Homo sapiens: one gene and its partner. The protein of the gene in region 1 interacts with the protein of each later gene in a biochemical or structural test. Each region holds a gene or a part of one and is shown in the gene's direction. Other genes may lie near its edges. The genes, in order: MBD1 and ATF7IP.

Region 1 (15,091 bases):
TTCCATGGGGACTGCATCCGGATCACTGAGAAGATGGCCAAGGCCATCCGGGAGTGGTACTGTCGGGAGTGCAGAGGTGAGGGCCATGGATGGACAGGGAAGGCAGGTGGGGCTTCAAGGGAGGAGGAGGAGCCACAAGGGGGGGTTATGGGGATTAGTGATACACGTCTGTGGTGAGCTGGAATGGGGCTCCATTGTGAGTAATAGAAGATCCCACGGGAAGAGGCAGCTCTGCCCTGGACAGGGGTGCAGAGTAGGTGGGTGGGTCAGTAAGGGAGCGAAGAGGAAGAAAGAGGTTTTGGGACCATTCAAGCCATCCAGTGCTCACTCACTTTGGCCCTACTCTCTGCCCCACAGAGAAAGACCCCAAGCTAGAGATTCGCTATCGGCACAAGAAGTCACGGGAGCGGGATGGCAATGAGCGGGACAGCAGTGAGCCCCGGGATGAGGGTGGAGGGCGCAAGAGGCCTGTCCCTGATCCAGACCTGCAGCGCCGGGCAGGGTCAGGGACAGGGGTTGGGGCCATGCTTGCTCGGGGCTCTGCTTCGCCCCACAAATCCTCTCCGCAGCCCTTGGTGGCCACACCCAGCCAGGTGAGTGGCTGCATAAAGTGAATGGATGTGTAAAGTGGTTCCGTTTCAGCCCTGCCTGGGTCCATGATTTCTGTTCTGGGCCCCCTCCTGCAGCATCACCAGCAGCAGCAGCAGCAGATCAAACGGTCAGCCCGCATGTGTGGTGAGTGTGAGGCATGTCGGCGCACTGAGGACTGTGGTCACTGTGATTTCTGTCGGGACATGAAGAAGTTCGGGGGCCCCAACAAGATCCGGCAGAAGTGCCGGCTGCGCCAGTGCCAGCTGCGGGCCCGGGTGAGCATGGACAGAGCTGGGTAGGGTCAGGTGTGGGAGAGCTGGTGGGTCCATGCATGGTTAGTTAAGTCTAGGCATGGATAAACCAGGTGGGATTGGGCCTGACTGTATCCTGACAGGTGGGAAGGGGCCTGTCATGTCCAGATGAATGGGGCATGACCTGGTATGCTGGGCTGGCAGAACACCCCCACCAACCCTGGGTAGACAGAGTGGGGCCAGGTGTTTTCAGGTGGTCATGCATGTTGGTACAGATCAGGCAGGGCTGAGCATTCCTGGCAATGAGGGGTAGCGGGGAGGTGTGTCTGGGGAGGTAAGGCCAGGCCAGGTGGGTAGGGCTAGGGCAAGGCCGCCCTCCATCCACCTGGGGCTGACCTGGGCCTTCCTCCTGCCGGCACAGGAATCGTACAAGTACTTCCCTTCCTCGGTGAGTCCAGCCCCCCAGGGTGGGGTGGGGCATGCGGGCAGGGCGGTCAGGGCCAGTCCTGAGATTCTGCCCTGCAGCTCTCACCAGTGACGCCCTCAGAGTCCCTGCCAAGGCCCCGCCGGCCACTGCCCACCCAACAGCAGCCACAGCCATCACAGAAGTTAGGGCGCATCCGTGAAGATGAGGGGGCAGTGGCGTCATCAACAGTCAAGGAGCCTCCTGAGGCTACAGCCACACCTGAGCCACTCTCAGATGAGGACCTACCTCTGGATCCTGACCTGTATCAGGACTTCTGTGCAGGGGCCTTTGATGACCATGGCCTGGTGAGCAGACAGGAGCATCCACTGGTGGAAGGGTGGAGGTTACAGAAGCAGAGAGTATCCCTAATGAGGAGACAGAGGGTATGGAAGGCTGATATGGGACATGAGTAGGTGGTGGGGTTGTCACGAGCGGGGCAGGTGGGTCAGTGCATGCCCTGCTTGCAGCCCTGGATGAGCGACACAGAAGAGTCCCCATTCCTGGACCCCGCGCTGCGGAAGAGGGCAGTGAAAGTGAAGCATGTGAAGCGTCGGGAGAAGAAGTCTGAGAAGAAGGTGATGGAGAGGGTAAAGTGGATGTGGAAAGGCAGAGGGTGGGGTTGAGGGAGAGGCAGAGGTCAGAGGCTGAATGGGGCAAGAGCCAGAAAGGGCTAGAATGGAGCAAGGGTCTGGGGTCTGGGGCTGACTTTGACTCCACCCTGACCTGACTTGTCTTGCTCAACAGAAGGAGGAGCGATACAAGCGGCATCGGCAGAAGCAGAAGCACAAGGATAAATGGAAACACCCAGAGAGGGCTGATGCCAAGGACCCTGCGTCACTGCCCCAGTGCCTGGGGCCCGGCTGTGTGCGCCCCGCCCAGCCCAGCTCCAAGTATTGCTCAGATGACTGTGGCATGAAGCTGGCAGCCAAGTGAGTCATTCCTGAGAGGTTCAAGGGAGTCAGGAAGTGCATGGTAGGGCCTGACCACAGCCTTCTGTATGTCTACCAGTCAATCAGCTATCCACCAGTCACCAAACAGCCACTACCCACTCACCCATCCACCTACCCACCCACCTGCCCGTGTGTCCATCCAGCCACCATTCCGCCAGTCACCTATTTACTTCTCCTTTTGCCATTTGCGTCTATTTTGCCATTCTCACTTACTGATCACCTCACTCATTCTGTTGCTTGCTACCTTCCCTGCAGCCGCATCTACGAGATCCTCCCCCAGCGCATCCAGCAGTGGCAGCAGAGCCCTTGCATTGCTGAAGAGCACGGCAAGAAGCTGCTCGAACGCATTCGCCGAGAGCAGCAGAGTGCCCGCACTCGCCTTCAGGAAATGGAACGCCGATTCCATGAGCTTGAGGCCATCATTCTACGTGCCAAGCAGCAGGCTGTGCGCGAGGATGAGGAGGTGAGCAAGCAGGGGCGCAGCAGAGCAGGGCCTGTACTTTGTCCTTCCCAGCCTTATTGTTCCTTCCATTCCATGCAGAGCAACGAGGGTGACAGTGATGACACAGACCTGCAGATCTTCTGTGTTTCCTGTGGGCACCCCATCAACCCACGTGTTGCCTTGCGCCACATGGAGCGCTGCTACGCCAAGGTTGGGGTGTCAGACTGAGGGGGCGGACCATGTGGGAACATCAGTGGGCCAGTGGGGGACAGATTTGTTGTCTGGGTGGTGTCTTGGGAGGGCATGCAGCGCACATCCACAGTTCCCTCCATTTGTGCTCATCCCTCCAGTATGAGAGCCAGACGTCCTTTGGGTCCATGTACCCCACACGCATTGAAGGGTAAGTGAGGGTGCCACGCAGTGAGAGGTGGGGGGTTAAGGCGGGGGTCAGAAGTGGGATGTGTGTGGAGCTGGGGCAGGATACGGGCAACCAGCCAGGACAGATGGACCTCCCTTCCCTCCCTCTACTGCCCTCTCTACTCCAAATCCCCAGGGCCACACGACTCTTCTGTGATGTGTATAATCCTCAGAGCAAAACATACTGTAAGCGGCTCCAGGTGCTGTGCCCCGAGCACTCACGGGACCCCAAAGTAAGGTTTTCCCTCAGCTCCTCCCATTTTGCCCCTCCTCCCTGCCTCGCTGTCCCACATTCATCCCTTCCTTCCTCACCTCACTTTTCCTTCACTTTTTCCTCTCAGCTTCCCTGCTGCTTCACCCTCCATTCCTCCTTTTCCATGCCTCCTCACCGTTCCCTGAACCCTCCATTCTTTTCCTTCTCCCTCCTTGAGCCCCCATTCCTATTCTCCCTTATCACCGCTATTCATCCCCCCAACCTGGCCTCCTTGCAGGTGCCAGCTGACGAGGTATGCGGGTGCCCCCTTGTACGTGATGTCTTTGAGCTCACGGGTGACTTCTGCCGCCTGCCCAAGCGCCAGTGCAATCGCCATTACTGCTGGGAGAAGCTGCGGCGTGCGGAAGTGGACTTGGAGCGCGTGCGTGTGGTAGGTTTCTGTGCGGTTTTGGTGCTGCATGTGGTAGGTTTCCATGTCGGACGTGGCCGGGGCAGGCGGGGCTGCAGGTGTTCCTGCTTAGGACTCCTGCCGCTCCCTTGGCAGTGGTACAAGCTGGACGAGCTGTTTGAGCAGGAGCGCAATGTGCGCACAGCCATGACAAACCGCGCGGGATTGCTGGCCCTGATGCTGCACCAGACGATCCAGCACGATCCCCTCACTACCGACCTGCGCTCCAGTGCCGACCGCTGAGCCTCCTGGCCCGGACCCCTTACACCCTGCATTCCAGATGGGGGAGCCGCCCGGTGCCCGTGTGTCCGTTCCTCCACTCATCTGTTTCTCCGGTTCTCCCTGTGCCCATCCACCGGTTGACCGCCCATCTGCCTTTATCAGAGGGACTGTCCCCGTCGACATGTTCAGTGCCTGGTGGGGCTGCGGAGTCCACTCATCCTTGCCTCCTCTCCCTGGGTTTTGTTAATAAAATTTTGAAGAAACCAAGGAAGCTGTCTCCACATTGCTGCGGTTGCAACTGTTCCAGACTTCTGGATAAGATGGGGGGCGCCTGCACCCCGCGAGAGCCCAGGGACCCACATTCCCAGCCTCCCACGGGCAGAGGGTCTACGCAGCGCGCCTTCAGTGTGGTGACACCGCCCATGCATGCTCCTGTCTCCCACCCAGAGCTGTCGTCCGCTGTGGACGCCAGGCCCCGCCTTTTCCCCACAAGCCCCACGTTGGGGATCCGCCTCCTGCAGGGGCGCGCCCTCCCGCGTGCCTCAGTTTACCTGCGGTGTGGCACCGCCCCTTTCCCCGCCCCGCGCGCTCCCACAGCTGTTCGGCGGGGAGGAGGGAGCGGGACACGACCCCCCCTGGGGTTGATGTTCGGAGGGACCCACGAACACAGGATAGACCCCAGCGAGAGGTGGGAGAGGAGAGCGCCGGCAGGGCCAGGGAGTGCGCAGGCGCGAAGCAGCTTCCTTGCCGCGTTCGGTATCGGCTGTGGAGACCGCGGGAGGGAAGGGAGGGCGCAGGCGCAAGCCCTCCCCGACCGCTTCCCTTCAGGTTGAGGCTGGAAAGCGCATGCGCCAGCTAGATGGGCAGCGAGGAGAGCCGCAACTGCCAGTCCCTCGAAGGGGTTAGCTGTCGTTGAACGTCAGCACGCAGATGCAACTGGCTCTCGGCAGGGGGGCGCGCGCACCGCTGCGGAGCGCCGGCCCGTAGGCGCGGGAGCCTCCCTATTAAGGGCACGCGACATCGAGGCAATAGTGCGCAGGTGCTTAGCCAGAGGCGGAGCCCGAGAGGCAGGCAGCGGACTTCCGGTTCCGGGAGCAACGAACAGCCGCGGAGGCGACAGCTACCGCTTCAGAGGAGGCGGCCGCGGAGGAGGAGGAAGGGGAGGAGGGCGAGGCGGGAGGTGCAGGAGGGACCCTCGCCATGGGTCCACGGGCCTAGAGTGGCGGAAGATACCGGCCTGGTGCCAAACTGGTGAGACAGCCTTGGGGCTGGACGTGGAGAGCGCTCAGGCGGAGGATGGGAAGGAATTGTGGCTCAGAACGCTGACGGGGAGGAATGAAGGGCCCTCAGGCCGATAAGGGGGAGGAATGGCGGCGTCGGAATACTGACGAGGAGAAATGGGGGGATTTAGGCTGAGGACGGGAAGGAATGCAGCTCTGAACTCTGACAGGTAGGAGTGTCGGGATCCTGGGACGAGGACGGAGAGGAATGGTGGAGATCAGAACGCTAAAGGGAGACATCGGGGCATCTGAAGTTGAGAGAGAAATGGGGGTTCAGAACTCTGAGAGGGAGAAATGAGGGGCCCTCAGGCTGATGACAGGAGAAATAGAGGCTTTGGAATGCTGAAAGGGAGGAATAGGAGGCCCCATATAGAGGACGAGGAGCAGTAGGGGATCAGAATGGTGACAGTTAGGGATGGCATGATCCCGGGACAAGAACAGAGAGAATGGAGGAGGGTTCGGAATGCTGAGGGGAGAAATTAGGGTCTCTCTGGATGATAAGGGAGGAATGGAGGATGAGAACAGTAAGGAGGAGAAGTGGGGAACTTTTTGGCTGTAGAGGAAGGTTTGGGAGCTCAGACTAGGGAGAAATTGTGGGTGAGAACATTGAAGGAGAAGAAAAATAAGGGGGGAGGTCTTGGGCTGAGGAAGGGGAGGCATGGGAGGCTTCCAGTGTGAGGAATGGAAAAGATGAGGGGCTGTTCAGGCTATGGGTTGGAGCAGTTGTGTCTCGCAGAGGAAGTCGAGGTTGTAACACTGAGGTAGCAGGATAAGAGGACATCAGGCAGAGAAGGAATGGAGTGGTTAAAACACTGAAGGAGGGAAATTAGGAACTCCTGGGTCAAGGAAGGGGGGAATGAGAGACTACTGAAGTCAAGTAGTGAGGGCAAGAGAAATGGGGCCCTTTGGGGCTGAGGATGGGGACTATGGGGGTCTTGGGGTGATAAAATAGAGGGATAGAGGCCCTTAGGTCAGTGACAGGGAGGAATGAGGGGGAAGGATGAAAAGTTTCTGGATTGGCAGTGAGGAGAAATGATGGGTTGTCAGTCTGAGGATAGAGAGGAGTAGGGGATTAGGACACTGAGAATAAGAAACAGGGATCCTTGGGTTGAGGAATGATGATATCCTAGGCCCAGAATAGGAAAGAATGGGGTGAGAATATGAGGGGTTTCTTTTCCATATATGGGCTGGTTGCCTGTGGCAGGTCCTAGGGCTTGGGCAAGCACTAATGGATACCAGTGATTTGTGTGGCCTGGGGCACAGTGTTGTCCCTTCCTAGAGCCTCAGTTTCCCTCATCCCTTCCACCCCCTTTCAGGCTACTGCTGCTTCCTGTGGCCTCCATGGCTGAGGACTGGCTGGACTGCCCGGCCCTGGGCCCTGGCTGGAAGCGCCGCGAAGTCTTTCGCAAGTCAGGGGCCACCTGTGGACGCTCAGACACCTATTACCAGAGGTACTGGGTGGGTAGTGGGCAGAGTCAGGAGTGGGGTAGAGCCTGATTCTGGTAAAATCAAATGGTGTGGTTAAATTTATGGATGAAGTTTAAATTATGCACATACAGTTAATCCTTATTAGCGGATTTTATGTTTGAATTTCACCTACTTAATAAAATTTATTTGTAACTTAAAAGTCACTACTCACAGTGCATTTGTGATTATTCAAGAATACGTACAGAGCAGTGAAAAACTGTCACTCAATGCATGTATTTCTAGCTGAGGCTGAAGGAGCCCTTTTCAGCTTTAATACTGTAAACAGGTGTCCTTTTCGTGGTCTGTTTAGTGTCACATTTTTCTAATTTTTGTACTTTTTGGTGATTTTGCTTTTTAAAATGGTCCCCAAGCATAGTGCTGAGGTGCTGTTTAGTGTTCTGTGAGAAGACTATGTCGTGCTTTATGGAGAAAATACAAGGCAGATAAACTTTGCTGGTTATCTGAGTTACAATGCTGTTGGCTGTAAGTTCAATGTTATGCATCAGAATTATGGTACAACCAGAAAAAGAAGGAAATTTGCCAATATGTGCACAAAGCTGCTTCAGAAAGTACAGAAAGCATTTATAGTCTTGAAGCTATGTAAGAGATGAGAAAGCAGCTACATTGGTGGGTTCATGAAATGACGATCAATAAAGCATAGTTGACAGCATTGTTGAGGAAAGCCAAAGTCATGTTACCCTGGGTTAGGAAAATATTAAGGTTATATCAGCTAGTGCTGGCTGACTTGCACATTTCAAAAGGCGACATGGCATGAAACATGTTAAACCTGCATGCAATGCAGGTTCTGCTGATCAGGAGTCTTCCGAAGAATTTTAAAAATACCTGTTAAGTGTTGTACAGGAAAGGGGTTGTGTGGAAGAGTGGTTTTCAATGTCAATGAGATTGGCTTGTTAAACAAGAATATTGGCAAAAAACCTTACATAACACATACGGCCTCCAAGTCCCCTGGTTTGAGTCATTCAAAGACCATGCAAATAATCATTTGTAAAAAAAAATATGTATTAAGTAATGTGTGTTTAAACAGAAACACACACAAAACAAAAGTTCAGATGCTCTCAGGAACCTAACCCTGTATTTCTTCTAGGAGCAATGGTTTTGTATTCAATGTTCATGATAGCTTTGTAGAACGTAACTACCATAACTAATGAGAGTCAACATAGATGTTTATAAGCATTTACATGTGTTTAAGAAACATTATTAAGTTTCTATATTCTTTCTGATTTTTTAAATCTAAGTTGCTATCTTTCCAGGTAAATATCAAATTACAAATTACTTTTTGTTTATATTTAGTTATAATTTATTCACATATTTATGTACTTGTATAAAACTTTCAAAACTTAAAAGTGCAGTTGTCAAGAACTATAAAGAACCTGAGATTTCATTCTTAGGACAAGATAATAGTGAATTTGTCAGAATTTTGTAGATGCTGGTAGGAGGGGTAAGACTCCTGGGTTACAGATCAAAGACAGTTTATTACAACAGTTGCAGGATCCAGAATACAGTAGTCTCCCCCTTATCTGCAATTTCATTTTCCACAGCTTTAGTTACCTACAGTCAACCACCATCCAAAAATATTAAATGGAAAATTTTAGAAATAAACAATTCATTAGTTTTGAATTGTGTGCCGTTTTGAGTAGCGTGATGAAATCTCACACCATCCCGCTCAGTCCTGCTCAAGAGGTGAATCATCTCTTTGTCCATATCCGTATCCATATCCATGTTCTAGACACAACCTGCCTGTTAGTCACACAGTAACCATCTCAGTTATCAGATAGAAAAAACACAGTACATATTACATTAGGGTTTGGTACTATCCACGGTTTCAGGCATCCACTGGGGAACTTGGGATGTATCCCCTGCACGAGAGGGGGAATTACTGTATTACTATTTTTGTGCCAGTTTCTGAATCCCAATTCCTACAGCATGACGTGAAGAGGGTTGTATTATTATAGGAAAAGAACCGTGAGCTTAGAGAATCAGGTTTTTTTTAAATAATATTAAGACAGTAAGTATGCTTTCCCTTTGGAAAAAGTATACTTTCCCTTCCTCCTATGGAAGGAGACCCTATCTCTTATCTTCCAAGGTTGTTTGCTTTACAAACATCCTTGGAAAGATAGTTTATCAAAAAGGACAATCGTTGTCTCTCTTGCAGGGCATACAAAAATGCAAGAAACCCATGGGGGTCCCAAAATCAATTACTTATACTTTAATTTGTATGTAGTTGCATTTGTTTATATGTTTTTAAAACATATTTGTGTTTTCTTTACTTGATATATACTTGGTACATAATGCTAACATTTATATGTTATATTTGTGTTATATATATATAACACAAATATAATATATTTGTGTTCCTATTTGTGTTTATTTTTACTTACATGAAATAGTTCCAGTATTACTAGTATTATATGTTGTAAATATGTTCATCTGTTTACATTTATATTGTTTCTAATGTTTCTATATGTGTTGGTATTTATATTAATTTTTTTATGTTTTCAAGGTTAGTTGAGGTGGGGGCTGGGCAGGGCTCACAAGCCAATTCCAGGCTGCCTCCTATATCCTGCCAGCCCTGTCAAAAGGTTGTATGAGTGAAATGGCATTGGCTCCACCTGGGTGCTAACCCATCATGGCCCATCCCTAGCCCCACAGGAGACAGGATCCGAAGCAAAGTTGAGCTGACTCGATACCTGGGCCCTGCGTGTGATCTCACCCTCTTCGACTTCAAACAAGGCATCTTGTGCTATCCAGCCCCCAAGGTACTTCACAACATGAGATACCTAGGTAGGGGTGGATGTGCCACCCAACACCCAACCACTGACCCATATTCCTCCTTCCCTTACTTTCCAGGCCCATCCCGTGGCGGTTGCCAGCAAGAAGCGAAAGAAGCCTTCAAGGCCAGCCAAGACTCGGAAACGTCAGGTTGGACCCCAGAGTGGTGAGGTCAGGAAGGAGGCCCCGAGGGATGAGACCAAGGCTGACACTGACACAGCCCCAGCTTCATTCCCTGCTCCTGGGTGAGTGTTGGTCTAAGGTGAGCCAGATGGGTGAGGGTTGTGATTGGGGGTGCTCTTGGAGCCCCACACCTGCCTTTCCCATCCCAGGTGCTGTGAGAACTGTGGAATCAGCTTCTCAGGGGATGGCACCCAAAGGCAGCGGCTCAAAACGTTGTGCAAAGACTGTCGAGGTGAGTGGCCTCCAGAGGATGGGGCATCGGGAGATAGGAGCTGGAGCAGGTCCAGTGTCATGCTAGGCTGGGGTTTGAATGTGGATGTCAGGACAGAGGCTACTGGCATGGTTGGAGGTTGGATATTGGAGATAGCAGGCATAGGTAGAGGTTGAATAGTGGAAGTCAGGGCACAGGCAGTGAGTGAAGTCAGATGTCTGTTGCTTCCTTTCCACTTTTCTTCTTCCCTCTTCCTCCCCACAGCACAGAGAATTGCCTTCAACCGGGAACAGAGAATGTTTAAGGTAAGCACAACCTGCTTCCTCTTCACAACTCTGCAGTGGGAGCAGGATGTGATGGAGCTGGTAGAGTCTGAAGGGATGATGATGGGTCCACAGGATGAAGAGTCATTTTATAGGGTGCTCTCCATAGGTCAGCAGACACAATAATGGGAATTAATGGGGTAATTAATCCCCATTACCATTAGTGCATCAGTAGACACAGTGATGAAGTGAACAGGGGACCAGTAGACATACTAATGGCCTCAGTGATGGTGACTAACCAGACCTTCTCAGATACGGTGATGAGGCTAATGGGGGACTAAAATTCATGGTGATGCCAGCTGATGTAGGGTCAGTAGACATGGGAGGACCAGTGCTTCTGGAGCAGGCCCGTGATCTCGTCCCTACCATTCCTGGCAGCGTGTGGGCTGTGGGGAGTGTGCAGCCTGCCAGGTAACAGAAGACTGTGGGGCCTGCTCCACCTGCCTCCTGCAGCTGCCCCATGATGTGGCATCGGGGCTGTTCTGCAAGTGTGAACGGAGACGCTGCCTCCGGATTGTGGAAAGGGTGAGTTGGGCAAGTGGAAAGAGCCCAAGGCTCACCTCGGCCCCTGGCCCCCATGGGCTTGGCCCCATGCTTCATGCCTCTGCTCCCACCTGCCCCCCGCCAACAGAGCCGAGGGTGTGGAGTATGCCGGGGCTGTCAGACCCAAGAGGATTGTGGCCATTGCCCCATCTGCCTTCGCCCTCCCCGCCCTGGTCTCAGGCGCCAGTGGAAATGTGTCCAGCGACGTTGCCTACGGGTGAGTTGGGCTGGAGGGAGCAGAGCTCATTCTGCTGTTAAAATCGTCGCTGCCTCTGCTTCCTTTCAACCTGGCCTTGCCTACCTCATGTCTTTCTTTTCTGCCTAACCCTATGCTCGCCTTTCTGGCCCCGCCTACCTGCCTCTGTCTGCCAGCACCTTGCTCACCGCCTGCGTCGCCGTCATCAGAGATGTCAGCGACGCACTCCCCTGGCTGTGGCTCCCCCAACTGTGAGTGCCTCACGCCACCCTCTGTCTGCCTGTCCCATGCATGCTTTCTGCACTTAGGGTGTGGGGAGTTTCTGTGTCTGCCTGGTGCCACCAAGCTGAAACCACCCTTTCTGATCTTTCCCAGGGTAAACATGCCCGCCGCAAGGGAGGCTGTGACTCCAAGATGGCTGCCAGGCGGCGCCCCGGAGCCCAGCCACTGCCTCCACCACCCCCATCACAGTCCCCAGAGCCCACAGAGCCGGTGAGGCCCCAGTGGGTGGAGGGAAGGCACAACCCTGACCTTACCCAGTACCTGCCCTGACCCCACCCCATTTGCCTCTACAGCACCCCAGAGCCCTGGCCCCCTCGCCACCTGCCGAGTTCATCTATTACTGTGTAGACGAGGACGAGCTAGTGAGTGGCCCCACCCTACCTGGATAAGCCTAGAATCTCAGGACGCTTGGTTAACTTCAAAGAAGCAGATGCTGGAATGAGCCTATTGGGGAACAGCAAGGCACAATAATGGGTCCTAGGATGGGATGAGTAGATAATGGAGGACTAATACGGGGTCAGCAGGTGCATGAGAGTGCTTCATGTCACATATACCAACACTCTGGTAGCTGATGTGGGGATTGACAGAGGAGCAGCTAGCATAGTGACTGGGGTTCACCTAGGATGAGCGACAGAGTAGGCACAGTGATGGGAGCTAATAGAGAGTTATCAAAATGTTGCTGGAAATGGGGGTCAGAGACATTTTCTTGGTAGCTAGTGGTGGCCTAGGAAATACAGCAGTGGATACTGTAGTGGAGCAGCCACAGTCCTAATGGTATCGAGGGCCAGCTGGCACAGTGATAGTGGCCAATGTTGAACTAGCGAATGCTGAGGAGTGACTAGTGGGGAGTCAGGAGGCTGAGACTAGTATGCAAGTAGCTCCGTCTTATGGGGCTAGAGGAGCACCAGGACCAGCACTGGAATAGGCGTTGAGGATGGCCTCTCCTAGTCCTAGTTGACAGCACCACCCATTCCCCCCACCCCAGCAGCCCTACACGAACCGCCGGCAGAACCGCAAGTGCGGGGCCTGTGCAGCCTGCCTACGGCGGATGGACTGTGGCCGCTGCGACTTCTGCTGCGACAAGCCCAAATTCGGGGGCAGCAACCAGAAGCGCCAGAAGTGTCGTTGGCGCCAATGCCTGCAGTTTGCCATGGTGGGTGGGGCAGGAAGGGTCAGGTGGACGGGATAGGTTGGGCCAGGCGCCCCAGTGCCTGGAAGTGGTGGGCAGGCTTGGTAGGTGGGTGGGTGGGGCAGTAGCTTTGGTTGAGGATTAACAGACATTGTTCTTGGCTTAATGAGTCTAGGTGGCATTGGTGTTGCTAATAGGAGACTAGCAGGCTCAGTGATGAAGGGCTCATATGTAAGCAGATTCCGTGCTGGGACTGATGGGAGATTAGCAGGCATGTGGAGCCGGGCAGGGTGGATGTGATTGGTCAGGACACCAGGTAGCCATAGCACCCTATCTTTCCCCATAGAAGCGGCTGCTGCCCAGTGTCTGGTCAGAGTCTGAGGATGGGGCAGGATCGCCCCCACCTTACCGTCGTCGAAAGAGGCCCAGCTCTGCCCGACGGCACCATCTTGGCCCTACCTTGAAGCCCACCTTGGCTACACGCACAGCCCAACCAGACCATACCCAGGCTCCAACGAAGCAGGAAGCAGGTGGTGGCTTTGTGCTGCCCCCGCCTGGCACTGACCTTGTGTTTTTACGGGAAGGCGCAAGCAGTCCTGTGCAGGTGCCGGGCCCTGTTGCAGCTTCCACAGAAGCCCTGTTGCAGGTGAGGGCCCCACCCTGTCCTGCCTTCCCAGCCTCACCCAGCTGCATGCCAGGGAGCTGAGACCAAGTCTGCTGCAATCCTCCCTCACGCAGGAGGCCCAGTGCTCTGGCCTGAGTTGGGTTGTGGCCTTACCCCAGGTGAAGCAAGAGAAGGCGGATACCCAGGACGAGTGGACACCAGGCACAGCTGTCCTGACTTCTCCCGTATTGGTGCCTGGCTGCCCTAGCAAGGTGGGGGCAGTGATGGATGTTCTGTTGGTGCCGTAGCGGAGTGGTCTGTAAGCAGAGTGATGATGAGCCATGATGGTTCTCTTGAGCAGAGCAATAGATGTGCTGATTGCGACGTTTCTGCAGAATTACCCCGCCTGTCTAACAGACACCCTACCTCCCACAGGCAACTAGCTTTGCCCGCTTTGCTATCCAGCTAACAGAAAAACGGAGGTCAGTGAGGAATGGGAATGGGAAAGCTTTGTAGGCAGAGAGATGGACTTTCTGTGTTGAAATGTGATGGAAGTAGGATTTGTCAGCACAGTGAGGGGTTGGCTGATAGAGACTTTCCTCAGGTGAACTCTGCCCTTCTAATGGTTGCCTGTTTCCTACTTCTCCCAGGCAGTAGACCCAGGCCTGCCTTCTGTGAAGCAAGAGCCACCTGACCCAGAGGAGGACAAGGAGGAGAACAAGGATGATTCTGCCTCCAAATTGGCCCCAGAGGAAGAGGCAGGAGGGGCTGGCACACCCGTGGTCAGTGCTGGGGATGCCCCACCCTGCCCTGACCCTGCTGTAGCCCCAACAACCACATTGACCTATGGTGTTAATTCTTCTCTAGATCACGGAGATTTTCAGCCTGGGTGGAACCCGCTTCCGAGATACAGCAGTCTGGTTGCCAAGGTGTGCCCCACACAGTGAGGGGTGGGGAAGGAGTGGGTGTTGGCCAGATGTGGGCCCTGAGTTTTGAAAGTATAGCCGGCAGTTTGGCATGGTGTGGTGGGAGGTAAAGGCCCATACCCACTATGCTGGTCACAATTAATGAGGGGCGTGTGTGTAGGACCCTAGAGATTTCTCCTGAGATCCAGCCCAATAGCATTCCAGGTTAGGACTCTCCTTTGGGGGTAGGGGAAAGACTTGGTACTCTATCATGAGATTTGAAAGAAAAAGATAGGGAGTCTGGTCCCTATTTTCCTAAGGAATTTCTATAGGGGTCAGCTTTAATATATAAATTCTTATTCAGAGAATAATCATTTGGGTCTTGAAGGCCTTTAGAGTCTCCAGGAGACCTCTGGGTGGGCTGTTGCCTGACATTGAGCAATGTGTACCAGAGAAATGGTGCTGGGCTTGCCTGGGCAGTGGTATGGGCAGGAGATCTGGGTTCCGAGCTGGCTTTGTGAGCTGGGTTCACACGTAGTTGTGTGATCTCTGGTTGCCCTGCACTTCCTGGAGCGGCCTCTGTGGAAGGGCTTGGGCTGGATCTCTTGAGCCTTTCCTGAGCCTATTGAGGTTATTAACTTCAGATGCCTTGCAGAACTGTCCCTGTAGTCCTGGCATAGAACAAAGGGTAGATGCCTGTAAGGACTAGGGTGGTTGGGAGGACAGAGGAGTGCTGGCTCCTGCAGAATATTGACAGACCCTGCATAGAGCCCCAGACACTGGCGATGTAAACTATTGGCCTAAGCACTTGGATTCCTTTGCTCCTACAAACCAGCCCACCAGGCTAGAAACCCTTTCATCTATACTTGGCCAATTACAGAAGTATTGATTGAGTTCCTGTTGGGTGCACAGCATTGAGGACAATGAGCCCTGCAAAGCTTACCCTTCAGGAGACACAGGATACCTACCTTCAGGGAGCTTATAATCTGACTATGTACAAGCTGTCTATAATGGTAGTTTTTAGAAGATATAAAAAAAGATAAAGGATAATTAAGGGGAAGTGGATGGAGGACACAGAATAGTAGGAAATGGTTTTGTAATGCTCCATTGCGCACATAGCAAACCTCATTCAACATACAGACCTGCTCCCTTTTCCCTAGGTCCAAAGACCTTAAAA
Region 2 (15,091 bases), on another chromosome or scaffold:
ATTAAGTAGGAATGCAGTAGGCTTCCTATCAGTTTCATCTCTAGGAACACTGTGATTAATTATCCAATGCTAGAGCTCTATACAAGTCGGACTCTTCTAACTGCCACTTTGCCTCTGCTGTCCATTACGGTAGCTACGCCCACCTTGCCTTTGACAGTTGAGTGCCACCACTTGGCCCCTGCCAACTTAGGATCCAGTTATTTCCATTGTATTTAAATTTTGTAGTTCAGTGACTAAGGTTCCCACCGTTAGATCTGACATACAGAGACGAGCAATTAGAGGGCTCTTCAAAGATACAAGTGCTGCCCTCACAAATCTGTTTCGCAAGGCATTGGTCAAGGGTATATCTTCTGGACCCTCCCAGCTGGGATGACTAGCTCTAAAGTGACTGATTCACTCTACCATCCCAATCTCCTTAGTCTTTGGATCCCTTCCTCTACATTAACCAAGGGAGATAAATCATTTCCAGCTCACTCACAGTGTGCCATCTTTTAATCCTTATTTCAACTAACCAAGCAAATAATCTATTAGAACCTTTTTTTTTAACTCCCTGAGCTGCAACATTAAATGCAGAGTCCCTACTTAGTGGGCCCAAATCAAGAAATTCAGCCTGATCCAACTTTGTTCCTTCCATCATAATCTTATACCCTTAATATCCATCCCCATGCCTGTTCTCTAGGTTTCTGTTTATGTAAATTAGAGAACTCAAAACAGTTCTCTGAGTGTAGCATACCTCCTTATAGGTCACACCTTCAACCTCACCTCTAGGGGCCCACCAGTACTTTAGTGTAGTTATACATCTAGAAGCAAAGAGAGGTGTTTGGAGGGGCTCCTGAGAAGAGTCAACATTGTCTTACCTGGCAACTGCCTCAGAGGAGGCCATCACTGTTGCCTCACATATCACAGGCTTTATTTCCTCAGACAAAGTTGGAAAGACTGATGGCAGCATGGATCAGGGAGGGTACGTTGCCCTCACTGGGTGTAGGGAAGCTGTTCCAATCAATACCCTCACTTTAACTGTAGACACCTGGTGAGTCTGGTACATGCCTCTTTTGTTGTAGGTTAGCCAATTGTATGATAAGAGCTTGTGTCTGTTTTTCTACAATTTCAGCTCTTTCTCTATAGGAGATAACTGTCTCTCACTCAAGGCAGTCTTAGCAGATTTCAGGCTCAGTATTTGCTTCAGAAGCCAGGAGACAGAATCCCTGAGTTCATCATTTTCTTTTATCACTTTGTCCACTGAACTTAGGAGGAACCGACCAGTTTCATTATGTTCCTTGGTTCTCCACATATGGTCCAAGGTATCGTGTATAGAGTCCCTAAACTCCTTGCTTCTCACAAGTGGTGATTCAGGAGTGTCAAATGCATTTATTTTGCATAACTCTCTAAACAGTTCATGCCAGGTACTATCAGTGTTCTTTATACTACTAGAAGTAGAGTCCTTAGCATTTGTGGGTCTAATCATATTAAGCAGCCAACTCCAGAAACCCCAAAATCAATGAAAGAACTCCATCCTTAATATTCGGTTCTTCTAGACCCCCAATCCTGGTACCAAAATCTGAATTAGGGTTCTCTAAAGGGACAGAACTAATAAGATGGACACACACACATGCACACACACACGTATCCTATAAATTTGTAGATATAGTATATTTTTATATATATCTATAGTATAAAGAGTAGTTTATGAAATATTAACACGATCACAAGATCCCACAATAGTCTATCTGCAAGCTTAGGAGCAAGGAAAGCTAGTCTGACACCCAAAAACAGAGGAACTTGGAGGCCGATGTTTCAGGGTAGGAAGCATCCAGCACAGGAAAAAGATGTAGGCTGGGAGGCTAAGGCTAAGCCTGTCTCTCCTTTTCACGTTTTTCTGCCTGCTTTATATTTGTTGGCAGCTGATTAGATTGTGCCCAGCAGATGAAGGGTGGATCTGCCTTCCCCAGCCCACTGACTCAAATGTTAATCTCTTTTGGCAACACCCTCACAGACACACGCAGGATTAATACTTTGTGTCCTTCAATCCAATCAAGTGACATTTAGTATTAACCATCACAAGTCTACCGCTTGTCAACCTGAACCCATATACATCTCCTAATATCATACGCAGCCTTCAAATAAAGAGGGTAATAAGGCCATACTTATGCCTAACATAATACAATTATCCTTTGTACAACCAGAAGCGCACCAATCCCCAAGCCAAATACTATTACATAAAGTTAACAATACTTAAATGTTGATAGGAAGTCAATAAATCTTATGTCACATGATGAAGGAAAAGGAAATAAAGACATTTTGTTTGTACAAGTGCATACATGCACAAACATGTTTTTAGCAAAAGAAGGAGGAAATACTCATGACAATTACAGTCCCCATTTCTGCAACTGGTCACATGGTAGTAGCTGGTATTGATGACTACCTTTTTCTACTACCCATTCTGTATTCTCTTTGCCTTCAGCAAGCACCTCATCTGGTAGTGGTTTTACTCCTGGTGGAGTGACCCCATCCTTCATTCCTGAGGGGTCTGGGCCATTTTTAGTGCTGCCTAGATTGGGCTGTTATAGTTTCCTGTTGACCTCAATCACAGGGCATGGTAATACTAACAGACGCCTTAATGGATCTCCTGTATTCCATGTATACTCTTCCTTACCTCCATTGTGGAACAGTAGACTGATTTCTTCTTGGCAGTCCGGGACAGTCACCACAGCCAACACTAACTCCCTTGTTAGCCTGTTGACTTAAAGGTAGGAGGATCCCAAAGTATCCAGGTGGCAATCTTAAGTTCCAGTTTAATGGAATCATTTTGTCTCCTGGTGTGAGCGTTCCTCCCTCTGGAACTAAGACCTCTAGGCCAGCAGAACGTAATGTCGCAGGAACAGGAAGCAAAAATTTTGCAAGTGGATCCCTAGGGGTGAAGGTGAGTGGTACCACTTCCACTTCCACCCTCTGATTCGTGGACCCATGAATCCTGGCTATGGGAGAAACAGCACCATATATTGGACGCTGATTCAGAGCATACATGGCCTTCTGGAGAATTTTGCCCCAGACTTGCAAAGTATTGTCACCTAGTTGGCATTGTAATTGTGACTTCAAAAGGCCATTCCACCGTTCTGTAAATCCAGCTGCTTCAGGACAATGGGGAACATGGTAAGACCAGTGAATTCCATGAGCATGAGCCCACTGCTGCACTTACTCAGCCGTACAGTGAGTGCCTTGGTTAGAGTCAATGTTGTGTGGAATACCATGGCATTCTGTGAGTCCATGGATAGTAGTCTTGGCAGAAGCATTGTGTGCAGCATAGGCAAACCCATATCTTGAGTATATGTCTATTCCAGGGAGGAGAAACCTCTTCCCTTTCCATGATGGAAGAGGTCCAATATAATTAACCTGCCACCAGGTAGCTAGCTGATCACCCCGAGGAATGGCATGCCCGAGCGAGGGCTCAGTGTTGGTCTCTTCTGCTGGCAAATTGGGTACTCGGCATTAGCCATAGTCACGTCAGCCTTGGTAAGTGGAAGTCCATGTTGCTGAGCCCAGGCATCACCTCCATTACTGCCACCATGGCTACTATGTTCATGAGCCCATTGGGCGATGACACGGGTGGCTGCGGATAGAGGCCGAATGGTGTCCACAGAACGGGTCATCCTATGGACTTGATTATTAATATCCTCCTCTGCTGAGGTTACCCATTGGTGAGCATTCACAGGGGATACAAATGCCTTCACAGTTTTTGACCACTTAAAGAGGTCCATGCCCAGAGCTCTTCCCCAAATTTCTTTGTCACCAATTTTGTAATGATGCTTCTTCCAAGTCCCTGACCATCCAACCAAACCATTGGCTACAGCTCATGAATCTATATAATCACACATCTAGCCATTTCTCTTTCTAAGCAAAGCACACAGCCTGATGCACTGCTCCAAGTTCTGCCCACTGAGAAGATGTTCCTTCACTGCTGTTCTTCAGGGATGTCCTAGAAAGGGACTGTAGTGCTGCAGCTGTGTACTTGCCGGTGGTGCCTGCATATGGTGCAGAACCATCTGTGAACCAGGACCTAGTCTTAATCTTCCACTGTCAAGTGATCACAGGGACTCCCCATGAGGCCATTGGTGCAGGCTGGGGAAGACAAGGCAGGGTGTCAGAGGGGAGACACGGGCATTTGAGCCACTCCTCATGTAAATTACTTCTGCCGTCCGCACCTGCTCGAACCCAATCACATATATACCACTTCCATTTGATTATGGAATGCTGCTGTGCATGACCCACTTTATGGCTAAGTGGGTCAGAAAGCACCCAGTTCATGATGGTCATCTCAGGTGACTTGATGACCCATAGTCAAATGTTCAGTTTCCACCAAAGCCCCTTTAACAGGCCAAGAGCTGTCTCTCAAAAGGAGAGTAGTTACCTGCAAAAGATGACAGGGCTTTGCTCCAAAGTCCTGGAGGCCTCCACCGTGATTCACCTATGGGGTCCTGCCAAAGGCTCTGACAGCATCCCTCTCTGCCCCTCACACCTCAAGCACCATTGAATCTGCTGGGTCCTATGGTCCAAGTGGCAGAACAGCTTGCCCAGTAGCACGGACCTGCTGCAGAGCCTTCTCCTGTTCTGGACCACACTCAAAACTGGCAGCCTTTCAGGTCACTTGATAAATGGGCTGGAGTAACACACCCACATGAGGAATGTGTTGCCTCCAACATCCAAATAGGTCCACTAGACGTTGTGCTTATTTCTTGGTTATAGAAAGGGCCAAAGGCAGCAACTAGTCTTTCACCTTAACAGGAATGTGTTGACAGGCCCCACATCACTGGACCCCTAGAAATTTTACTGAGGTAGAAGATCCCTGAATTTGGTCAGATTTATTTCCCATCCTCTGGCACACAAATCTCTCACCAATAAGTCCAGTGTTTTTGCTACTTCTTGCTCACTTGATCAATCAGAATAATGTCATCAACGTAATGGAGCAGTGTGGTATCTTGCAGGAGCAAAAAGTGATCAAGGTCTCTCTGAATAAGATTATGACACAAAGCTGGAGAGTTGATACACCCCTGAGGTAAGACAGTAAAGGTATGTTGCTGTCTTTGCCCACTGAAGGCAAATTGCTTCTGGTGGGCCTTATGGACAGAAATGGAGAAAAAGGATTTGTCAAGTCAATGGCTGCACACCAGGTACTAGGAGATGTGTTAATTTTCTCAAGGAGTGAAACCACATCTGGTACAGCAGCTGCAGTTAGAGTCACCACTTGATTAAGCTTACAGTAATCCACTGCCATTCTCCATGATCCATCTGTCTTCTGCATAGGCCACATGGGAGAATTGAATGGGGATGTGGTGGCAAGCACCGCCCCTGCATCTTTCACGTCCTTGATGGTGGCACTAATCTCAGTACCTCCAGGTATGGGATATAGTTTTTGATTTACTACTTTTTAGAGGCAGCTCTAATGGCTTCCATTTGACCTTTCCCACCATAGTAGCCCTCACCTTACCAGTCAAGGAGCCAATGTGGTGGTTCTGCCAGCTGCTAAGTATGTCGATGCCAATTATGCATTTTGGCACTGGGGAAATGACCACAGGATGAATCCAGGAATCCACTGGATCCACTGTAAGTCAGACCTGAGACAAAATTCCATTAATTATCTGACCTCCATAAGCCTGTACTTTAACTGGAGGACCACAATGATGCTTTGGGTCTCCTGGGATCAGTGTAAGCTCAGAACCAGTGTCCAGTAGTCCCTGAAATGTCTGATCGTTTCCTTTTCCGCAATGCACAGTTACCCTGGTAAAAGGCCAGAGATCTCCTTGGGGAAGGATGGGAGAAAGATTCACTGCATAAATTGTCAGGAATGTAGTGGGGTCTTTCCTCAAGGGGACGAGGCCTCCCCTTCATTCAAGGGGTTCTTGGTCTGTAAACTGGCTCAAGTCTGGAAATTGATTGAGGGGTCATCATTCTGTTTTTATTATTCAATTTAGTCTTTTGTCCATTTGACCTAGAAGCTTTCTGGTTGTATAAGTAGGAATGCAGTAGGCTTCCTATCAGTTTCATCTTTAGGAATATTGTGATTAATTAGCCAATGCCAGAGATCTATACAAGTCAGACTCTTCTGATTGCCACTTTGCCTCTGCTGTCCATTATGGTAGCTATGCCCACATTGCCTTTGACAGTTGAGTGCCACCACTTGGCCCCTGCCAACTTAGGATCCAGTTATTTCCATTGTATTTAAATTTTGTAGTTGAGTGACTGCAGTTCCCGCTGTTAGATCTGACATATAGAGTCGAGCAATTAGAGGGCTCTTCAGAGATTCAGGTGCTGCCCTCACAAATCTGTTTCGCAAGGCATTGGTCAAGGGTATATCTTCTGGACCCTCGCAGCTGGGATGACTAGCTCTAAAGTGACTGATTCACTCTACCATCCCAATCTCCTTAGTCTTTGGATCCCTTCCTCTACATTAACCAAGGGAGATAAATCATTTCCAGCTCTCTCACAGTGTGCCATCTTTTAATCCTTATTTCAACTAACCAAGCAAATAACCTACTAGAACCTTTTTTAACTCCCTGAGCTGCAACATTAAATGCAGAGTCCCTACTTAGTGGGCCCAAATCAAGAAATTCAGCCTGATCCAACTTTGTTCCTTCCACCATAATCTCATACCCTTAATATCCATCCCCATGCCTGTTCTTCAGATTTCTGTATATTTGAATTAAAGAACTCAAAACAGTTCTCTGAGTGTAGCATACCTCCTTATAGGTCACACCTTCAACCTCACCTCTAGGGGCCCACCAGTACTTTAGTGTAGTTATACATCTAGAAGCAAAGAGAGGTGTTTGGAGTGGCTCCTGAGAAGAATCAACATTGTCTTGCATGGCAACTGCCTCAGGGGAAGCCATCACTCTTGCCTCACATATCACAGGCTTTATTTCTTCAGACAAAGTTGGAAAGGCTGATGGCAGCATGGGTCAGGGAGTGGATGTTGCCACTACTGGGGATGGGGAAGCTGTTCTTTCTGGCAAAAAAGCTTCATCAGAATTTACAAACTCAGTGTCCCCAGCTTCATCAGGGTGCTTCTACACACCCCCATTCCAAGTTTCAGGGTCCCATTCTTTTCCAGTCAGTGCCCTCCCTTTAACAGTAGACACCTGGCAAGGCTGTGCATGTATCTTTCATTGCAGGTCAGACACTCGCATGATAAGAGCTTGTGTCTGTTTTTCCACAACTTCAGCGCTCTCTCTACAGGAGATAAGACTCTCATTCAGGGCAATCTTAGCAGTTTTGAGCCTCAGTATCTTCTTCTGAGGCTGAGAGACAGAATCCTTGAGTTCATCATTTTCTTTCATCACTTTTTCCACTGCACTTAGGAGCAACTGACCAGCTTCATTATGTTCCTTGGTTCTCCACATATGGTCCAAGGTATTATGTATAGAGTCACTAAACTCCTTGCTTCCCACAAGCAGTGAATCAGGAGTGTCAAATGCATTTATTTTGCATAACCCTCTAAACAGTTCACACCAGGGACTATCAGTGTTCTCTATACTATTAGAATTAGAGTTTTTAACATTTTTGGGTCTAATCACATTAAGCAGCCAACTCCAGAAACCCCAAAACCAATGAAAGAACTCCATCCTTAATATTCTGTTCCTCTGGACCCCATTCCTGGTACCAAAATCTGAATTAGGGTTCTCTAGGGGGACAGAGCTAATAGAATATATATATATATATATATATATATATATATATATATATATATATATATGTGTGTGTGTATATGTATATATACACATATGTTTCCTATATATAGTATTCATATAATATATACTATATATAAACTAATAGGATATATATATTTTATATATTATATATGTATTAAACTAATAGGGTATATACATAAAATATATACTACATATAAACTAATTGTATATATACTTTATATCCTACTATATATATACAGTATATCTTAATTATATATAAATATTAAATATATGTAAAATACTTTATATATAGTGAATGTTTATATATATAAAGGGGAGTTTATTAAGTATTAATTTACATAATCAGAAGTTCCCACAATAGACTGGGCATGGTAGCTCACGCCTGTAATCCCAGCAGTATGGGAGGCCAAGGCAGGCAGATCACTTGAGGTCAGGAGTTCGAGATGAGCCTGGCCAACATCGTGAAACCTCATCCCTACCAAAAATACAAAAATTGGCTGGGTGTGGTGGCACAAGCCTGTAATCTCACCTACTTGGGAGGCTGAGGCAGGAGAATCTCTTGAGCCCAGGAGGCGGAGGTTGCAGTGAGCCGAGATCATGCCACTGCACTCCAGCCTGGGCAACAGAGCCAGACTCTGTCTCAAAAAAAAAAAAAAAAAAAAAAAGATCCCACAGTAGGCTGTCTGCAAGCTGAGGAGCAAGGAAGCCAGTCTGAGTCCCAAAACTGAAGAACTTGGAGGCCAATGTTCCAGGGCAGGAAGCATCCAGCACAGGAAAAAGATGTAGGCTGGGAGGCTAAGGCTAAGCCTGTCTCTCCTTTTCACGTTTTTCTGCCTGCTTTATATTTTCTGGCAGCTGATTAGATTGTGCCCACCAGATGAAGGGTGGATCTGCCTTCCCCAGTCCACTGACTCAAATGTTAATCTCTTTTGGCAACATCCTCACAGGCCCACCCAGGGTTAATACTTTGTGTCCTTCAATCTAATCAAGTTGACACTCAGTATTAACCATCACACATATGTTGTAGTTTTGCAAAATGTGACAGCAAGGGAAAATATAGCTATTTAAAGAAACACAGTAATGCTATCATTTAGAAAATAAACTGATTGGAGTCCCTGGATCATAGCTTGGCTTCAACTCTCTCAAGTTTACAAGAGCGTTGTCTGGGAAAATTAATCAACAAGGTTAGAAATGAGTTCTGGGAAACTTGGCTCACTATAGTCCAGGAACCAGGCCGAACTACAGCATGGGCCAGGTACTGAATAAATGGCAGGAATATAGTTAGGGCAGTAGGTGGCTCTAAATTTTCTCTTTTTGTTTCCCTGGTGTATGTCACAGCAGTTTTCTGTGGGGTGAAGTGAGTATCCTCAACCAAGGAGCTGGGCATGGAGAAAATGAGAGGAACCTCATTAATACATGGCAAGGATGACTTATTCTGGCTTTCTGTCCTGGTTGAAAAGATGAGACTGCAGAGATTTTTATGAAGATACTCCCAGTTTGTCTGTCTTTTGAGTCACACTGCTCCATTATGGCCATTTACCTTTTACATGTGGTACACAACCAGTGTTCTAGGATTTTTGTTCATAGTTCTCCTGGTAACGATCCATTTATTTCTCCCTGTGCTGGACCTCCTGTTGCTTGTGTCTCGTGTTTTTCTCTTTATTTTCTCACGTACTGGTGGCACATATTCTCCATTGACTATTTGAGAAAGGGTTTGTGGTAGTTAGAATTTTTTTTTAGTGCTTGCATGTAAGAAAGTTTTTTTATCCACAGGCTGATTGATAGCTTGGCTGAATACGAACAGGACCTCTAGGTTAGAAATATCTTTCCTTTCGAATCTTGAAAACATTGCTTCACTGCCTTCAAATATTTAATCAGTTTTCCACCAAATTTACAATAGAATTATCATTTTATCCTGTAATTTTTTTGTTTGTTTGTAGGTGTTACAGTTCGAGTGCCTCAAACAACCACATATGTTGTAAACAATGGACTAACCCTGGGATCAACAGGACCTCAGCTCACAGTGCATCACCGACCACCACAAGTGCATACTGTAAGTGTTGATGCTTGGTTTTGCAAAATTCTCAACTGTAGAGGTATAAAATATTATTGTATTTGGCATTTTTCTTTAAAATGGTTATATCCAAGGGAAGTGTTAGGTCTTCCTGCTTTTTCAGAAGTTTATTTCTAAAAATTGATCTTACCATTATGAACACATAGTTCCTAGGGATGATGATCATTTAGAATCATTGAGTTTGCTTGTGGTGTACAGTGTACAAAAACAGGTCCACAGTTGGGGTATATGAAGTGAAATATAGACCATTTCTAATTCATAGTTAAATTAAAAAGGACATTTTTCATTTCTCCATGTGTTAATTTTATTCTTTCGTTCTAAACTATGCCACATCTAACTGCTACATTGTCATCAATTAATTGTTCTAAAGAATCCAATGATATTGGGAATTCATTAGTTAAGAGGTAACAGAGATAACCAAAGATTTCTCCTTAGATTTAGCCTCCAAAACAATGTCACATTATCCTGTGACACAATTTTGTCAGTGTTTGACTGGTATGAAATATCATTATAATGATGATGATGTTCCAGTGTTAGAAAAGTCAATAGGACTTCCTAAAGTTAGAGTCATGTTTTTTCATCATCTGGCCTTAACCTACCTTTCCAGATTTTTCTTCATGTACCCTATGTCCAAGAAAAAGTTAATACTTGTTCTTGTCCATACGTCCCCTCACTTTACTGTCCACATGCCTTTGCTCATGCTTTATTTTTGGCTGAAAGGTACATGATTATTTCTGCATCTCTGGATCCTCCTTCACAGTTGAGTTTAAATATCACCTTTTTCTTGTAAATTGGCCAAGAATATAGTACACATTTAGTGTTAATGTGCTTATTTATAAATAACTTAAAAATGAAAGTATATTTGTATTCTCCAATTTTATATGATCTTGGTTGCCATACATGATATTTAAAAATGTTACATCATACTGAAATGATAATCTGTAACATAGATAATTCAATCATAAATTATTTTGTTAGAAATAGATCATTACTTCCGTGTTCCTCAAAATGATGTTCCGTCAGCAGGGGCTTTTTATTTCCTAAGAAAAACTCAAAATATTTTAGGTCTAGGAAGTATAGTAGGAATAACCTCAGCATCATTGTTTGTAGCATGATTCATTACAAAACCCCAAATAGAACTTGCCAAATTTGATATGGTATTTGGTATTTCCTAGAATTCTTGATATAAAATGATACTTCTACGTATGTTCTCTAAGGTGTTTTAATTCTAACATTCTAAAATAGTTCTTTTTGCAATCATCATTAATCAGTGTGACCTGTTTCTTCAGGAGCCCCCACGCCCCGTGCACCCAGCACCCTTACCAGAAGCTCCACAACCACAGCGTCTGCCCCCAGAAGCTGCCAGCACATCTCTGCCTCAGAAGCCACACTTGAAGTTAGCACGCGTTCAGAGTCAAAATGGCATAGTACTGTCATGGAGTGTCCTGGAGGTGGATCGAAGCTGTGCCACTGTTGATAGCTACCATCTCTATGCTTACCATGAGGAACCCAGTGCCACTGTGCCCTCACAATGGAAAAAGATTGGGGAAGTCAAGGCACTTCCCTTGCCCATGGCATGTACTCTCACCCAGTTTGTATCTGGTAGCAAATACTACTTTGCAGTACGAGCCAAGGATATTTATGGACGTTTTGGGCCTTTCTGTGATCCTCAGTCAACAGATGTGATCTCTTCTACCCAGAGCAGTTAAACCTTGGAGCCTTTATATTTTCCTCTTTTAAAATTTCCACCTTTTGGTCTTGTTTTTAATCTTGTGCATGATACCCCATGTAAAATCCACCTTGTGCAAGATTTCTTGGACAGATGTGTGTATACACTACATTTGTTTATAACCAGAAGCAAAATAAACTCAGCCCACAAAGCTAGAATCTTTTCCTGGACAGTTTAGGCTTTGGGGTTTGGAAATGTAAATGTGTACCTTGCTTTAGTTTTGAGGCTGGGGAATATGTGTGGGTGTTTATGTGTGTTTTTCCTTATGTAGGTGTTATTGCATTGGAGTCTCCCATTTTCATTCTCAAATTTACCTCTTAAAGTACGAAGTAAGTAGATCAAAGGATTTGAGATGTGTAACTGGCATGATTCTGCTTTTGAAGGATCTATAGTATCATTTTAGTTAAGTGGGTCAAACAGAATCAAAACAAAACCCAAAGAAATAAATAAAAAACAAAATGGCTAAATAGTTTAAAATAGGTTAATTCGAACACAGGAAAGGATCTATTTGTTGTTTCTTTTGTCTGGTCTCCTGAGTTGTTAATTAGGTGAAAAAAGATCTGCAATGGCCCCCTCCCTTTCCTAATCTGGCTTTTACATTTATTTTGTGCCTTAAAGATTAACTACAAAGATAAACATGGCCAAAAATAAATAAATAAATATGGCCATATGTCCGTTGTTGCTTAGTCTTCCCTTGCAGCCTTTTACCCTTGATTTCTCCTTCATCTCTACCAAATATAGCACAACTCCTCAAGTAATTTTTTTTTTTTAAGATGGAGTTTTGCTCTTGTTGCCCAGGCTAGAGTGCGGTGGCACAATCTTGGCTCACTGCAACCTCTGCCTCCTGGGTTCAAGCAATTCTTCTGTCTCAGCCCCAGAGTAGCTGGGATTACAGGCACCTGTCACCATGCCCGGCTAATTTTTGTATTTTTAGTAGAGATGGGGTTTCACCATGTTGGCCAGGCTGGTCTTGAACTCCTGACCTCAGGTGATCCACCCGCCTCGGCCTCCCAGAGTGCTGCGATTACAGTTGTGAGCCACTGTATCCAGCCTACTCAAGTGATTTTTAAACCAAGGTGTGTGTATGTACATGGATGTGTATGTACACACACACACAGGTGCATGCATAGTCTCATCTTAGCCGGGCATGGTGGCGACAATCACATTTAACTCCAAAAATTTGACGTGCTATTTTCTTCTAAAACTATAGATGCTTTTATTTTTGGTCACTATTTAACTTTGTGTAAAGTGGACCAAGAGAAAACCATATTGTGGAAGACAGTTTTTCACACATTTTAGTATCCGTGTTGCACACTGTGTTAGAGATTATGAAAACCATTCTAGTTCAGTTTATCACCCAAAGCTATCACCCAACACTAACTCCTTAGTATTCTTTCAAAGGAAGCAAATAGTAAGATTACAATATAGAATGAGCTAAAATATCAAGGGGAAAGCTTCATTTCCTCTTTATTCTCTTTATCGTCCTTCCCATTTTAACCTTTTAACTTTGTTTTGATGGTGCCAAGTTGAGTCTGATGTACCCATTGTTAGCTTTGGATAGAATTTAAAGTATATCCCAGAATTAGCTGGGCATGTTGGTGCATGCCTGTAATCCCAGCTACTCAGGAGGCAAGGCTGGAGAATCGCTTGAACCCGGGAGGCGGAGGTTGCAGTGAGCTGAGATTGCGCCATTGCACTCCATCCTGGGAGACAAGAGCGAAACTCTGCCTCAAAAAAAAAAGAATTTAAAGTATATCCTTTGAGGTCATTTTATGTAACAATTAGATATAACCTCCTGTGTATCTCTCTGTTCCTCTTCAAAGTTATTAAAATTCAGCTTAGGTCATGGATTTTTAATATGAGGGCCAGCTGTACTGGTGTCAGGTAGGTGTTTTGGGTGTAGATAATTTAGGACTGGAGGGCTGAGTTAAGTTTTAGGAGGAGAATGTGGTTGAGAATATTTTGAAAGGAATTTATGGAGTTTGTGAAATAACTTCGAAGTCCTCTTCCTTTACAATATTTGAATTCATATTTGTACCTTCTCAAAATAGTGATTCATTTTTCCTAGAATTACAGGAGGGAGCTCTTTTACTAATGTTGTTTTGTTTGCAACTTTGATGGCTTATAATAGGAAGTATTCTAGTTGTAAAGAAAACTCTTTAGAGACTTTTGACTGGTCAGTATACTGAGGTGTGAGATTTGATTCATGATGAAGAAAGCCTATAGATTGCCAAAAAATTAATTCTCCAAACCACCTTTCACTCTCAGAAAATGAGACCACAAAGGAGTATGCTATAAATCAAATTTGCCAACCAATTATGTAGATATTACTCATTCTAGGACTAATGATGATGGTAAAGAAGTTGCCAGTGTTATGGCAATGAAAATTTCAGAAAGGAGGAGTTGATGATCTTCTAGATGTATATGAACACCTGTCTATATCTGCATGTATATGTTTTGACCTGCAGTGGTTGCAATGTTGATATGTGTTCAAGATTATTCCTGTCTACAAAACTGAAGGCCCATGTTCAAATTGTTCTTTATTGGGTGTTTTTATGGTCACGTGGTAACAATTTTCTTACCTAACCTACAAAAGGTTCTCTTGATGAACATTTTTATTTATATTTACTAATCTTTTTTAAAAAAAGCTTTCATAGCATTATATAATCAGATGAAGAAAGCCCAGTAGAATAAAAAAAAAATTCATTAGCCTAGCCTATATTATGTTTTCTGTCAAAGGAAAACAAATTCTCAAATAGGAATTCTAAAAATATTTACTAAAGTAAAATAACTACTTAAAATGTTTTATTCCAGTTGGAAGGAAGGTACAGGGAGAAATCGCAATTATTTAGGGGAGAAGTATATTTATTATAAGATGGTGTCCTCAAATTAGCCTACCATGGCACGTAGGGGCAGCAGCTATATTAGATTTACTAGAGGTGCTAAGTTAGAACACTAGGCTTTTATTGAGGCAGGTTTTAATATTGATAGATGCTTTTTGTTTGGTTTGTTTCTTCTGGGAGAGAATGGAGGACTTAAGTAGAAGTAGCTACTGATAACAGACTTTCTAGTAGCAGTTTCCACTCCACGGTTACCTTTTTAGTTTCATAGTATCTTTTCACAAAGTATTACAAATAAGCTAGATTCTCCCAGTTTGGGAATGCAAGTTTGCTACATTTTTAGCCTGGCAATATTTGTGTAGGTATTGCCTTATTGGAAATTCTGGAAACCTGATACTGCAACCTGCAATGTAGGATGTTTGTATGGCATTTAAAGGTAATGGTGATGTTTATTATTCTATACTTTGCATTCTGTGAGAGTAATTTTCACTCTGTCTTAAGTGTGAGTAAGCCTCTTCTAAAAATCTTGTTCTTGCCAAGAAATTTATAAATCACATACGAAGACGTCTGTTGCTAACAGTTAACTTTATGAGGTAACTATATCCTTCTATTTCTCTGGACTCATTTTTAAAAAATATGCCGAATACTGCATACTGTTTAAGGTAGTATATAAGTTTATGAGAGAAGTGGAGAGCTTTCTTCCTTGAAAAGTCGGTATTTGTTGAGATACCATTTGCCTCACAGAGAG

What was found.
Region 2: the proteins of MBD1 (region 1) and ATF7IP form a complex in vitro, tested with the Homo sapiens proteins (2 studies listed by BioGRID).

The regions. Positions count from the first base shown.
Region 1 is NC_000018.10:50,271,524-50,286,614, reverse strand, and holds the start of MBD1 (methyl-CpG-binding domain protein 1), read left to right. Parts: upstream 1-5,091; 5' UTR 5,092-5,252; exon of another isoform or gene 5,253-5,398; coding exon of another isoform or gene 5,399-5,451; intron 5,452-6,597; coding exon of another isoform or gene 6,598-6,622; coding exon 6,623-6,732; exon of another isoform or gene 6,733-6,739; intron 6,740-9,410; coding exon 9,411-9,525; intron 9,526-9,616; coding exon 9,617-9,783; intron 9,784-9,870; coding exon 9,871-9,953; intron 9,954-10,196; coding exon 10,197-10,237; intron 10,238-10,633; coding exon 10,634-10,780; intron 10,781-10,886; coding exon 10,887-11,015; intron 11,016-11,170; coding exon of another isoform or gene 11,171-11,245; intron 11,246-11,369; coding exon 11,370-11,486; intron 11,487-11,569; coding exon 11,570-11,638; intron 11,639-12,261; coding exon 12,262-12,429; intron 12,430-12,751; coding exon 12,752-13,051; intron 13,052-13,143; coding exon 13,144-13,281; intron 13,282-13,659; coding exon 13,660-13,791; intron 13,792-13,876; coding exon 13,877-13,938; intron 13,939-15,074; coding exon 15,075-15,091. Other genes in the region: CXXC1 (CXXC-type zinc finger protein 1), read left to right, coding at 1-76, 358-593, 687-866, 1,264-1,290, 1,368-1,613, 1,776-1,895, 2,053-2,237, 2,514-2,721 and 5 more. UniProt on the Homo sapiens protein: Transcriptional repressor that binds CpG islands in promoters where the DNA is methylated at position 5 of cytosine within CpG dinucleotides. Binding is abolished by the presence of 7-mG that is produced by DNA damage by methylmethanesulfonate (MMS).
Region 2 is NC_000012.12:14,486,591-14,501,681, forward strand, and holds part of ATF7IP (activating transcription factor 7-interacting protein 1), read left to right. Parts: intron 1-9,640; coding exon 9,641-9,753; intron 9,754-11,063; coding exon 11,064-11,483; 3' UTR 11,484-15,091. UniProt on the Homo sapiens protein: Recruiter that couples transcriptional factors to general transcription apparatus and thereby modulates transcription regulation and chromatin formation. Can both act as an activator or a repressor depending on the context.